Linked DNA regions of Homo sapiens. The protein of the gene in region 1 interacts with the protein of each later gene in a biochemical or structural test. Each region holds a gene or a part of one and is shown on either strand. Other genes may lie near its edges.

The links. The genes of interacting proteins can lie anywhere in the genome.
Region 2: the proteins of ADAR (region 1) and SMURF2 form a complex in vitro, tested with the Homo sapiens proteins (one study listed by BioGRID).

What each region holds. Positions count from the first base shown.
Region 1 is NC_000001.11:154,598,182-154,605,204, forward strand, and holds part of ADAR (double-stranded RNA-specific adenosine deaminase), read right to left. Parts: intron 4,446-7,023; coding exon 2,860-4,445; intron 405-2,859; coding exon 221-404; intron 1-220. UniProt on the Homo sapiens protein: Catalyzes the hydrolytic deamination of adenosine to inosine in double-stranded RNA (dsRNA) referred to as A-to-I RNA editing.
Region 2 is NC_000017.11:64,652,308-64,659,330, forward strand, and holds part of SMURF2 (E3 ubiquitin-protein ligase SMURF2), read right to left. Parts: intron 1-7,023. UniProt on the Homo sapiens protein: E3 ubiquitin-protein ligase which accepts ubiquitin from an E2 ubiquitin-conjugating enzyme in the form of a thioester and then directly transfers the ubiquitin to targeted substrates.

The DNA.
Region 1 (7,023 bases):
TCCGAAATTCTGTAAATCCAATTATGTTGGGACAGGAGCAGACAGAGGAGCTGGGTATGAGAGGAGGAAAGGTGGGCTGGCGAGATAGGGTAGAGGGAAGAGTGGGAAGCTGACTCCGAGATGGTGTCAGTTGTTTAGGCTGGGATTGCCTCAAGGGAGTCAGTTACAATCCAGACACTGACAGGGAACTGATCCTCCCAGATGGCAGGAGGACACCTACCTTCTCTGATTCTTTCTCTGTGGAATAGTGGGATGATTCTTCTGATTTTCCACTGTCCTTGGCTTTGGCTTCCTCTAGCAGAATTGTCATGGCTTTCATAGCTGCATCCTGCTTGGCCACTTTCTTGCTTCCAGCTTCAGCTGGGGGAAACTCTCGGCCATTGATGACAACCTGGAATTTAAATCTTGACGGAAAGTGATTAGATGTGTGAACAGGAGTCTAGGTCACTCCTTCTGCCTTCTCCAAAGAGACCTTCAACCTGGAATTTTCTGCTACGCTAAGGGGCTTTTCACTTGTGGAGATGAAGGGTAGGCCAAGGAACTCCTTCCTACTCCTTAAGGCTCAGCCTGTCCTTTCTTTTTGTAAACAAAGCAGCCAGTGACTCTTTCCCCATAGCTCAGTGAAGCAAACATAGGCACAGATGATAGGAAACTAGCTCAGGGGAAACCCACTATCTCTTTAACAATGAATTAAGATAAAACCCACACACACAAAAATGATGAGCCAAAAATTACCATTATAGTCTTGTGAGCAACCAAAAGACCTTCATTCTAAAGCAATTGTGGTAGACTGGCCTCCTCAAGGGAGGGTCCTAAAAGATAGTGAAGGCTTCTTATAACCCAGTCTCACACTCCCCACTACCTAGGGGGATCAGGCATCTGCCACTTATCAGTGGCCTGCTTTTGTCCCTAGACCTATATCACCGTAGTTTGTTATGAGTCACTCTATAGCACCATTTGTCTCCAGCTATTTTCTACATAACAAGGAATTTCCCCTTGTTATGTAGAAAATAAAAAAGCATTTGTTCTAGGCCTCTGGACTTAGCCTAGGCCCCCTTTGTTCAAGCTTTCAAATGTGGTGAGCTCTTTGCTCAGTCTGGGATTTCATTTAGAAAAGTAGGTCAAATTTCTTATTTCCTAGGTCTTCTGATATATTTGAACATGGCACCAATGTTTCTTTTAGTGTGAGTCCAAAGAATGACTAACCACAAAATCCACTGCTTTCCTCCAACTCTGGGGAGGAGGGATGGAGGCAAAAGAGAATGACGGCCATCCAGTCTCTACCCCAAACAATCCAGCTCTGGCCTTGCCAGCTTTTGGACAGACACAACTCCTTTTCTTAACCGCTCTCCTGAAATGCCAAATTGGTGTCATGAAGACAGTCAAGACAAGGAATAAGGGCCCTAGCCAGGAATCTACACCCCTAGAAACCAGGCTAGGTAAACATAAAGGTCAGTGGAATTCTCCCCCATCCTACTGGCTCTTTCCCTGGCTGCAGCTGCAGCCACTCAGCTTCAGTGGTTTTGCTCTCTGTTATGCCCTTCAGAAGCTCCTGTTTTCCTCAATCTGTCCACTGGCCTATTAGGACCTACAGTGCAGGGCCTGACCAGCTATCTGAGTGAGGTAAAGGCTGACTTCACAGCTCAGGAGTGGCAGCAAGTGCTAGCCTACCCATCTGTGCAGAGGAGGTTTATAAAATTAGAACCACCACCTTCAACAGGCAGGCAGCCGTGCACACGCTCCTCCATCCTTTCCCCCCAGGAGCTATGCAGAGGGGGGATTGTGGACCTGCTGCTGCTTAGCAGCACAACCCACCCCCACTGTGTATGCAGCCTGCCCCAACCCACCTGCTCCTGCACCTCTCTCAGAAAACGGCTTAGGGAGGAGGGGAAGGCCTACAGAAGGGAATTAAGTCTTCATTACCTCTGCCTTAGGAGGCAGGCATGATATTGATGCATGGAGATCAATCATGTTTTTCTTTTTTCTTTCTTTTTCCAAGATGGAGTCTCACTCTGTCGCCCAGGCTGGAGTGCAGTGGCGCCAATCTCGGCTCACTACAACCTCCACCTCCTGGGTTCAAGTGATTCTCCTGCCTCAGCCTCCCGAGTAGCTGGGATTACAGGCAAGCACCACCACCCCCAGCTAATTTTTGTATTTTTAGTAGAGATGGGGTTTCACCATGTTGGCCAGGCTGGTCTCGAATTCCTCACCTCATGATCTGCCTGCCTTGGCCTCCCAAAGTGCTGGGATTACAGTCGTAAGCCACCGCCCCGGCCCCCAAGACCAATCATTTCTTTCTTTTTTTTTTTTGAGATGGAGTCTTGCTCTGTGGCCCAGGCTGGAGTGCAGTGGCGCAATCTCAGTTCACTGCAACCTCTGCCTCCTGGGTTCAAGTGATTCTCCTGTCTCAGCTTCCTGAGTAGCTGGGACTACAGGTGCACGCCACCACGCCCAGCTAATTTTTGTATTTTTAGTAGAGACAGGGTTTCACCATGTTGGCCAGGCTGGTCTCAAACTCCTGACCTCGTGATATGCCTGCCTCGGCCTCAAAAAGTGCTGGGATTACAGGCATGAGCCACCGCGTACGGCCAAAACCAATCATTTCTAAAGAAGCTTCATTACAGCCAACAGAGTCAACCTCCCCCTTGTTCAGCCAAGATTCTGGCTGGTCCAAGGTCTATATTCCCTGCTCAATATCTGGAGAAAGGGCCAATCAAGGGGAATTTAGCTAAAAGGCAGAAGGGAAGGAGGAAAAGATAGGCGCCACCAAACAGCACTGCTCACAAATCAGCCAAGACTGCGTCAGGAGCAAAAGCACCTGACCCCAACCCTAGGTACAGTTCCTGGGTGGTCTCTTACCGAGGTTCATGGGGTGGTCCACTCTGCTCTATCATGTTGAACTCACAGGTTTGACTAGCGAACTGGGCATATTCTAACAGCCCGCTGATGGGGTTCTTCAGCTGGCACTCTGTCAGTTTCTTGTAGGGTGAACACCGTGGCAAGCCATGACTGTAGAAGGAGGGCATCTCCATGATGGCTCGAAACTCACCTGGTGCTGCGCGGATACTATTCAAGTCATCTGGGATGTCATCTGTGGCCCACTGGCCATTTTCAAAGTCAACATACCCTGCTTTTGAGGGGCCATTGTAATGAACAGGTGGTTTCAGTCTTGCTGGTTCTGGTCTGGCCTCTTGCCTGTTTTCTAACTTTATGACAGGTTCCTGCCCATTCTCCACTTTTTCTGTGGTTACCATGTTATTTGAGGCATTTGATGTGGGTATATTACAGGTGAGGAACTCTGCGTTTCTTTTGGTCTCAGGGATTGCAGCTGGAGCGGTTTCAGGAACACTGTTCGTATTTCTCTTGATTTGCATCCTCTCTCGCTTCTTGTCTGTCAAATGCCATATGGGAGGGGTTGTCCCTTGTCTATAGACATCCCCCTGCCTTTCCATGTCAATTAGCACAGCATTTATATCTCGGGCCTTGGTAAGGCCAATATTTTTAGCCAAATTCAGGGCAGAGGAGTCAGACACATTGAAGAGATAGTCGCAGATTTTCTCCTTGATCTCGGCCATGTCTAAAAACTCAAGAGGATCTTCCAAGGCAGATGTGGAGTTGCTGTCTTCAGGTTCCAAACCTGGGTCTGAGTTTGGGGATCCTTGGCTATGACTGTCTGGTCTTACCACTCCGCTGTGCTGGTTCCAAGCCTGAGCTGAGACTGCAATAAAAGGCTCAAGAAGATCTTCTGAGACAGATGTGGAGTTTCTGTCTTCCGGTTCCAAACTCGGGTCTGAGTTTGGGGCTCCTTGGCTATGACCGTCTGGTCTTACCACTCCGCTGTGCTGGTTCCAAGCCTGAGTGGAGACCGCGATTTTCCACAAAGGGGGTGTTCCTGCCTCTTTCTGTAGCTTGCCCTTCTTTGCCAGGGAGTATAAAACTCGATTGATTTCTTTCTTCGGAGTCCCAAGTTTCCCAGACAGATCATGTGCTGTGGTGGCCTTCCCTTCCCCAAGCTCTTCCAGGAACTTTAAGATCCTTTGTTCCTGATCTTGGTAGATACTCAGTTCCTGGAAATGTGAGGAAAGGCAATCAACACCTCTCTGTGGCAGACTCCTGCCACGTGGTGAAGGATGCTGGAACCCTCTCTGGAGCCCCTGACTTCTGAGATGCACGCCCCTGGGGACACCCCTGATGTCCACTTGCCTGCCTCTGGTACTGGAGGCAAGTAGTACTGGAAACCTTGGCCGGAGTCCTGGGAGGGAAGGTGGCAGTGACGGTGTCTGCTTTCCAATCACCGGTGCTTCTGGGAGCTGCCCCTTGAGAAATTCTATTTGCTTAAGCAGGAAACTACTGGGGGAAGATCCTGGCCCAGGCTGCTGGTACCTGAGCTGTCTGTGCTCATAGCCTTGAAATGGATGGGTGTAGTATCCGCTGAGGGAATACCCCTGCAGAATAAGACAGTGGAAAAAGAAAATGAATTAGGGCTGCAGTGGTGAACCTGTGGAGGCCCCTCCCTTTGCTGCCTGTGGAACAGCCCTTGAAGGGCTGAGAAGGCAATTGAGCCATGGGCTTATGACTTGGCTAGGGTGACTTGCCTACCTCCTAAATCCTGCCTAGGGGCCTGCCAACAGGAACACAGAGAGGGGAGCAGGAGGCAAAGCACGCAGAACTTCCAGGAATACAGAGGTTCTGAGGCCTCAGCATAGCCTCTCCAGCAACCTAACTTACTTTTCCCTTTGACAGAATTTAAGGGAGTTGAGAAGGTAATTTTCTAGTTACCAAAACAATTACCCCTTTAAAATCAGAACAACAAATATATGTTATTGTTTTGAAAACAAAAACAGAATAACCTGAAATAACCAGAACAATCACATGAAATAACAATAACCAAGGGAGATGGGACTAGGGAAGGGACGAGATGACCTCTCCTTAAGTCAGGCTCACCAGTGCACCCCTTGCCCACCTGTCTCTAAGATCTATCGTTTAGATGACTATGACAAAAGAAGAAATGTGATTGGATGAAACTGAACCCCAGTCCTCCAAGGCTGTAACAGCGCAGTAACGAAAACAATCTCCAGGTGGGAAAAGGCCACGGGACCTCAGAGTCATCTCTGTGGCTCTTCACTGCCATCCCAGGAGGATCAGAATTTGGTCTTCAGGGAGCTGGAGGGTTTCCTGATAAAAATGGCACACTGTCCTCACTCTTCAGTGTGGTACCCAGGCTCAGAAGGGATGCCAGAGACTTTTGCCCAAACCACCCAGGCTCTCCTGGATGTGTGGAGCTGGCAGCATCTGCTCCTCACCACCTCAGACCAGTCCTACCTTCCCTAGCTACTTCCCCATAGCTGCTTCCACTGCACGTTCTTCTGAACCCTGACGGACAGGGCACAAGCAACCCCATGTTCTCATATGCACATTTACCAGAACACCAAGCACCTGTGACCCCTTTCCCCACCCACCCACCTGCAAACCAGTACTGTCTTCTCCCCAGGGCTGTTCACTGGAGGGTGATGGAGCCAGGAAGTACTTATAAGCCTGGGGGTGTCAGTAAACACCTTGCTTCCTTTCCCTGGGGCTTGTAGACTGGGAGGAGGGATTCTGACAACATTTACTCACACTCACCGCCCCCTCCTCAGACTCTCCTGGAGGCTGCACAGGTAGAGGTGGGACCCTTTCTTCCATAACTCTAGCCTTCTACTCTTCCACATCCTGACACACTTAGGGGATTTCAGCATTCTTGTCAATCACTCTCATGGTGTCCTGGCTACAAGGATCCTTAACCCAGTGATCTCCATCCCTACCTTTCTGCCACACAATTGGCTTGTCTAGCTACTCCTTCAATCTCACTATGACTCTAACCTAGGCCATCACACCAAGACCTCAAATCCTGCAACTCTTTTCCAGTGGCTGATAAACTTTTTCTATAAAGGGCCAGACAGCTCTGCCACTGTAGCACAAAAACAGCCTCACACAATATGCAAAACTTTATTTACAATTCATTTACCATGAAGCTTTATTTATAAAAACAGGTAGTTTGTACCTGTGGGCCATAGTTTCTTGACTCCTGCTCTTTTCTGATGGTGACTTCCCTGTGTTTCTACAACTTCACTCCTTACTCTGGTGGAACCTGCTCCTCGCATGACCCCGGTGAAGCTGCCAGTAAGCCACCCTGATTCTTCCCCACTCTGACTTCACACACCTCCTCACCCCACCTGGATCTCATGGTCAGTTCCCTTCTCCACCCAAGGCCCACTGTCCCCCTTTTCTTCTCCAAAGCTTCCCAGTGGTACTGGAGAAGGACCTTGACTTGTGCTAACAGGGTCCATAAAAATTCCTTCTCTTGAACCTCATTTGGGTCTTCGCTGTGTGGTGGTCAATTGTGTTTAACAAACATGCCTTAGTTCACTGTGGATTGAGTACTCTTCTTTTAAAAAATTCTCCTCCCAGGGTTTGGTGACACAGCAAAGGTCTTTCACCTCTTTTTTCTTCTTTGTCCCTTTTTCCCACCCCTTATAATTTTTTAATAGCTACTGTATTAACGGATCCACCCTTTATATAATCAGTCTCCAAGGTTTTAAGGACCTCTTCTTCCTTTATAATTTATTTCCTAGGTTGCTTTAATCACTGCCCCAACCTAAACTAGCCCTCTGAAGCAAGAGCACTCAAATCTACTATGTCCAGCCACTACCTTGTGTGGGAGCTTAAGATCTGAATTTCCAACTATGTCGACAGTCTGTCCACTTAAATATCCTGCCATAACTCAAACAGCACATATTCTGAACCAAATTAATAGTTCCCTCAAACTCAGCTCCTTCTCCTGTAGTTCTTATTGCTAATGGCATCACTCTCCTCCTAGCCTATTAAGGCTAGAAACCTGCGTCATCTTTGCTGCCCGCCTCCTGGCCTCATCTCCTGGATCTCATCAGGTAGTTGCCAAGTCCCACCTTGTCTGCCACCTCTGTACTGTGTCTTAAATGTGTTTTCTTCCAGTTCCAGCCCCTCATTACCTCTTACTGGGCCATT
Region 2 (7,023 bases), on another chromosome or scaffold:
CCGCTCCAAAGCACTACAAGATCCTAAATCAAAGACTCAATTTGTTTGAAAGCTGCTTTATTTTAAAGCTATAGTAATCAAGACAGCATAGTGTTAAAACAAATAAACTTAAAGGGTAGAATCATAAAGAAAACACAGGAGAGTCCAGAAATAGAATTCTATGTATACTGTCAACTGATTTGTTTGTTTGTTTGTTTTGAGACAGAATCTCGCTCTGTCGCCCAGGCTGGAGTGCAGTGGCACAATCTCAGCTCACTGCAACCTCCACCTCCTGGGTTCAAGTGATTCTCTTGCCTCAGCCTCCCGAGTAGCTGGGATGACAGGCACCTGCCACACACCTGGCTAATTTTTTATTTTTAGTAGAGACGGGGTTTTGCCATGTTGGCCAGGCTGGTCTAGAACTCCTGACCTCATGTGAGCCTCCTGCCTCGGCCTCCCAAAGAATAGGCATGAGCAACCGCACCTGGCCTGTCAACTGATTTTCTACCAAGGTGCCAAGACAATTCAATGGAGGAAACAAAAGTATTTTCAACAAATAGGGCTACAAAAATAGAATATCCATATGAAAAAAAAATCATGACACTTACTTCTCACAGCATATTAAAAAATTAACTTGAAAATAAGTTTAAATGTATGAGTTAAAATTATAAATAATGCAGAAGAAAACACAGAGAAAATCTTTAGAACTCTGGGTTAGAAAAAGACTTAGGACTCAAAAAACATGAACCACAAAAGAAAAACACTGATAAACAGGTTTCATCAGCATTCAAAACTTCTTCTCTTTGGGACATCTTTTGGGGGGCGGTGGGGGAGCTACAGTCCGGGAGAAAATATTTGCAAAGTATATATCTCATAAAAGGCTTATATCCAGAATACATAAAGAATTCTCAAAACTCAATAAGAAAACAATCCAATTTTAAAACATGAACAAAAGATTTGGATATTCACCAAAGATTATATGGACAATAAATAAGTCCATTAAAATGTGCTTAAAACTGTAGGTTATTAAGGAAGTAAAAATTAAAGTACCATGAAATATCTGTACCTACCAATTAGAATGGCTAAAATCAAAGACAGTATCAAGTGCTGACTAGGATGAGGAACTACTGAAACTCATACAATGCTGGTAGAAATGCAAAATGGTACAACTTTGAAAAAAAAAAAATTTTTTTTTTTGAGACAGAGTCACCCACACTAGAATGCAGTGGTGTGAGCACAGCACCGCAGCCTTAACTTCCCAGGCCCAATCAATCCTCCATCAGCTTCTCAGGTAGCTGATACTACAGGCACAGGCCACACCCGACCAATTTCTGTATTTTTTGTAGAGACGGAGTTTTGCCATGTTGCCCAGGCTGGTCTCAAACTCCTGGGCTCAAGCAATCCGCCCAGCAGATTTTTAAAAAGTTAAAATGCATACTTTCTGTATGATGCAACAATCCCACTCATTTACCCAAGGGCAAGAAAAACATGTTCACAAAGAGCCATGTACTCAAATGTTTATTCGTAATGGCCAAAAACTGGAAACAACAAATGTCTGCAGATATTTATAAATGGATAAACAAATTGGTGTACAATGCAGTATTCCTCAGGAATGAAAAGGAACAAAGTACTGATACCCAGCATGAATGGATCTCAAAAGCATTACGCTAAAAGAAGCCTCACCCAAAAGACTGCAGACAGTATGATTCCATTTACTCAAAATCCTAGAAAAGGCAAAATTATAGTGACCGAAAACAGATCAGTGGTTGACAAGTTCTCGGTATTGAAGAAGACAACTGGCTACAAAGAGGTAAGAGAAAATGTTTTGGGAAGAAACTTTTTGGGAAGAAATGGGAAGAACATTGCATGATTGCAATCATCCACGTGGTAATTCCTCCCTAAAAATGAATCATCGAGGTTTATTTAAAAATTTAAACTTTATGTCTGCTACCAATTTTTGTACAAAACCAAACCAAACTGCCAAACTTCAGATTATCTGTTGACACTTTTTAATATAATATCAAATGTGGTTTTAAAAAAGGTAGCCAATGCCATCAGAAGCTATTCTAAAACAGAGTTGGTCTGAAACTATTCTTGTTCAGAAGACTGCTCGTATTTAAAAAATTTTTAATGAAATAAAATTTCTCACTTTGTTCAACTACTTATATGTTGGAGAGAAATCCGAGAGAAAAGAAAAATTTTAAGTGTTAACATTCAACTGTAACAAGTACCAAACACTGACACCTAGAAAACCAGCCATCAGCTGGGTGCGGTGGCTCATGCCTGTAATCCCAGCACTTTGGGAGGCCGAGGCAAGCGGATCACCTGAGGTCAGGAGTTTGAGACCAGCCTGACCAACATGGAGAAACCCCATCTCTACTAAAAATACAGAATTAGCCGGGCGCGGTGGCACATGCCTATAATCCCAGCTATTCAGGAGGCTGAGGCAGGAGAATCGCTTGAACCCAGGAGGCAGAGGTTGCAGTGAGCCGAGATGGCGCCATCGCACTCCAGCCTGGGCAACAAGAGCAAAACTCAGTATCAAAAAATAATAATAATAAATAAATAAATATAGAGATGAGGTCTCACTATGTTGCCCAGGCTGGTCTCGAACTCCTGGGCTCAAGTGATCCTCCCATCTTGGCCTCCCAAAGTGCTGGGATAACAGGCGTGAGTCACCACACCCAGCCAAAATTCTTCTAATCAAGCAAAATACATATAACTGCATTCCTAAATACAAGCAATAACTAGGATTAGAAAACACAACGTAAATCACACAAATATAAATTATCTGAAATTAAATTCAAACACAGGAAGAAAATTATAAAGCTATCCTGAACAATATGGGCCAAAGCTTAAATAAATGTAAAAAACATATCATGTTCCTGGGTGAGAAAACTAAATAAACTTAGATACTTCTTTTTCCCAAAGTAAAGCAATTCTAATGACAATCCCAATGAAATGTCTTTTTTTTTTTTTTTTTTTTTTTTTTGGAGACACAGTTTCACTCTGTCGCCCAGGCTGGAGTGCAGTGGCATGATCTCGCCTGCAACCTCCACCTCCCAGGTTCAAGCGATTCTTGTGACTCAGCCTCCCCAGTAGCTAGGATTACAAGTATGTGCCACCACACTCAACTAATTTTTGTATTATTAGTAGAGACAGGGTTTCACCATGTTGGCCAGGCTGGTCTCAAACTCCTGACCTTAGATGATCCACCATCCTCAGCCTCCCCAAAGTCCAAGGATTACAACCGTGAGCCACCATGCCCGGCCCCAATGAAACTTCTTATTAAACTTAACAAGTTTAATATTTATGTGGAAGAAAAAAATAAGACTACCAAAACAAATGAAAAGAAATTGGGAGGCCAAGGTGGGCAGATCACTTGAGGTCAGGAGTTCGAGACCAATCTGACCAACATGGTGTAAACCCATCTCCACCCAAAAAAAATACAAAAAAAAATTAGCTGGGAGTGGTGGCATGCACCTGTAATCCCAGCTACTAGGGAGGTTGAGGCAGGAGAATCACTTGAACCCAGGGGTCAGAGGCTCCAGTGAGCCAAGATCACGCCACTGTACTCTAGCCTGAGTGACAGAGTGAGACTCCGTCTCTTTAAAAAACTGGCCTAGTGAGAATACTAAACTAAATTATAAAGCTACAATAAAAAAAACAGTATGGCACTGAACAAGAGCTATATCTGACTCTATAACTAATATAACTGAAAAGATACTACATCACTGTGGAAAGGAAGAATTGGTTAATAAATAATGACAAGATGGCTAAATAGCAATTGCAGGGGAAATAGTTTATTAAACCATTTTTTAAAAACATTAAATATAATGTACTTATTTATCAAACTTCTTGGAGAATAAGTTCTTCCAAGTATAGAATAGGAAAAACAAAACAAAAGTTGGACAGATTTTGACTCCTAAGATAACACATTTCTACATGTCCAAACAATGAACAATATTAAAAGACAAATAATTCATCATGGAAATGTTTGTAGCAAATATGACAACAGGTTAATATATTTGTAAGTCTCAGGTAGATCAATAAGAAAAACACTAAGGCTCTAACATAACTAGGACAAGGCCAAACAAGTCAATGAAAATAAATATCATTAGTAAACAGACAGGAAAATATTCTGCTTCACGAATGTTTAAATGGCACATGCCATGAAATTAGCAAAAAATGTAAAATGCAATTAGCTTATACTTATAACAGAATAGTAAAAAGGGACATCTTTATTTACTGCTGCTCTAAATAGGTCCAACTCTTGTAAGAAGCAGCCTAAAGGAAAAATTACTCATGAAACCTTAAAAATATCCACACACTTGAACTCAGTAACACTATTTTTATGGAAGCATCCTAAAAAAAAAGAATCCTTAAAAAAAAAATCAAAGTTACCTACACCAAGATGTTTACAGCAATTATTTGTAATAAAAAATTTGGAAATAAACATTCAAACAAAAAAATCTGAACGATGGTTGCTGTTGAATCTGCTTAACCAGTTATCCTAAAACCAGTCTTCATGGTTCCCATTCCAGTCCATCCTCCATACTGCTCCCAGATTGTGTCTAAACAGCAAATATATTAAAGCTTAAAATCCTGCAATGGTTCCCCCCACCTTAAAAAAAATGAACATCTTGGCAAACTACAGTAAGGTCCAAACTAGGTTGGTCCCTGTCTAGAGCCTCACCTCTTGCCACTCATACCCAATGCATTAGCCATAAAGAACACATGCAGAACTATTCGGAAGTATTTATAGCTCTCCAGCATTCATTAAATAAAATGCCAAAAAGGTCTTAATCCATACTCACACAAGGATGCTGGCTTCATGGCACTTAAAGCATAGGAACAATAAACGCCTACCAGTGGGTTAGGTCTGGTACTAGAAGAGCTTCTTAGAGTCATAGAGGACAGTTCAACTCAGGTCAGGGAAAGTTCTAGGGATAACAGTAATCTTTGAGTTGAGCCTTAAAAGATGGGCAAGTATTGCTAGGGGCGAGGGCATTCATAATTATACTGAGTCATGAATAAAACATTAAGTTCTACTAAGTATGGTCTATTTGAAAAGAGGAGGACATATTACGTCTTTAAGACTCTCACCAAAAAAGGCTCAAATAGGCCAGGCATGGTGGCTCACACCTGTAATCCCAGCACTTTGGAAGGCTGAGGCAGGAGGATCTCCTGAGCACAGAAGTTCAAGACCAGCCTGGGCAACCTGGAGAAACCCCATCTGTACTGGAAAAAAAAAAAAAAGGTAAAAAAATCAGCCAGTCACAGTGGCATGGACCTGTAGTCCCAGCCAGTTGGGAAGCCAAGGTGGGAAAATCACCTGAGCCGGGAGGTCAAGGCTGCAGTAAGCCGGGATTGCTCACTGCACGCTGTTGCCACTGCACTCCAGTGTGGGCAACAGAATGAGATTCTGCCTCAAAAAAAAAAAAGGCTAAAATAAAAATCTTGTATGCCTAAGCATGACCCTTCATTTATCTTTAAAACTGAGTTATGTTAAATGAGATGTTAGTATGTTGTGATAGTAATAGCTCAACCAACAAGAAAAAAGTAAAAGTGATGACTAAAATACACAGACTTTATTACGAATACCAAACTACAAAAAGGACCTTGGCATGTTCTACTGCCTGCCTGAAGAGGGTCAGACTAGAAGACAGAATTTAAAAGAAAAGGAAGGAGCTCAACTACACTGGCTTCCTCCTCAGAAACCAAGAAAATAAAACAAATTGGGGACATTCAAATCACTAACACCTCTAGTATATAAAGTCATTATGGGCCGGGTGCCGTGGCTCATGCCTGTAATCCCAGCACACTGGAAGGCTAAGGCGGGCGGATCACCTGAGGTCCAGAGTTTGAGACCAGCCTGGCCAACGTGGCAAAACCCGTCTCTACTAAAAATACAAAAAAAACCAGCCAGGCGTGGTGGTGGGCGCCTGTAATCCCACCTACTCGGGAGGCTGAGGCAGGAGAATCACTTGAACCCGGGAGGTGGAGGTTGCAGTGGGCCGAGATCAAGCCCTTCAACTCCAGTCAAGAGTGAAACTCCAACTCAAAAAATAAATAAATAAAGTCATTATGATGTATAGGCATACTTAAAAACCTGTGAAATAGAATTAAGCTACAATTTTTAAAGCCTTGAATCGATAAAATATGTAGTGAAACAAGATTAAGACGCTAGCATATCTAAAGGGAAATTTTTAAAGTTAAACTTCCTTACATTATAGACAAGGTTAACCTCCTTATTGCCAAGGGCTTTGAAATTAATAACATGAGAAGCAGCATACAAAAACATTAAATGTATAAAAAGGTCTGAAACAAATGTTCTGGAGGAGTAATCTTATTCTGCTTCTCCATACCTAAGAATTTAAAATATTAGAAATTACACTAAACTGCTTTTTCCAGCCTTTGGTTTTCAGAAACAATAATGGTATAAAAAATTATCCCAAAGTTTTTACTGTAAAGAATATTTTTCTATCCAAACCATTGAAAGAAAAGCCTGTATCAGATATAAGTATAATGATATAGACATTATACATTTTGTAATCAATGTTATAGAAACAGTAGTTGAAGTTGATAGTGTTACCATACAGCCCATTTCAATGATCATATGTTAATGTGTCATAAAGAACAGAAGTAGCTTGATGGATGAAATCAGATTCTAACCCCCAACTGCCTGAGGAATCTAAAATTTGGGATCAAATTATTAAATTAGCCCCACCTTCTTAGCATTGACAAATACCAAACAGTTCACTGATTGTGGTTTTAAGAATAATATGTGGAAAGGTTTAATATCAATTGTGGGCAGAGATCTCATGGCTTAAATATTTCCTCTTCTTCAGAGAGAGTGTGTATGAGTGTGTGAGTGTGTGTGTGTGAGTGTGTGCATCACCATGTAAGAAATGTTTATACCTTTCAGCAAAGGGGCAATTCCACAATAAAGTTATTATCAAGTAACTAAAGTTTATACAGCATCTTGAAATCAAAGGTACTCTATAAATTTAAAATACTAATATGGTATTAACTTAAAGCAAA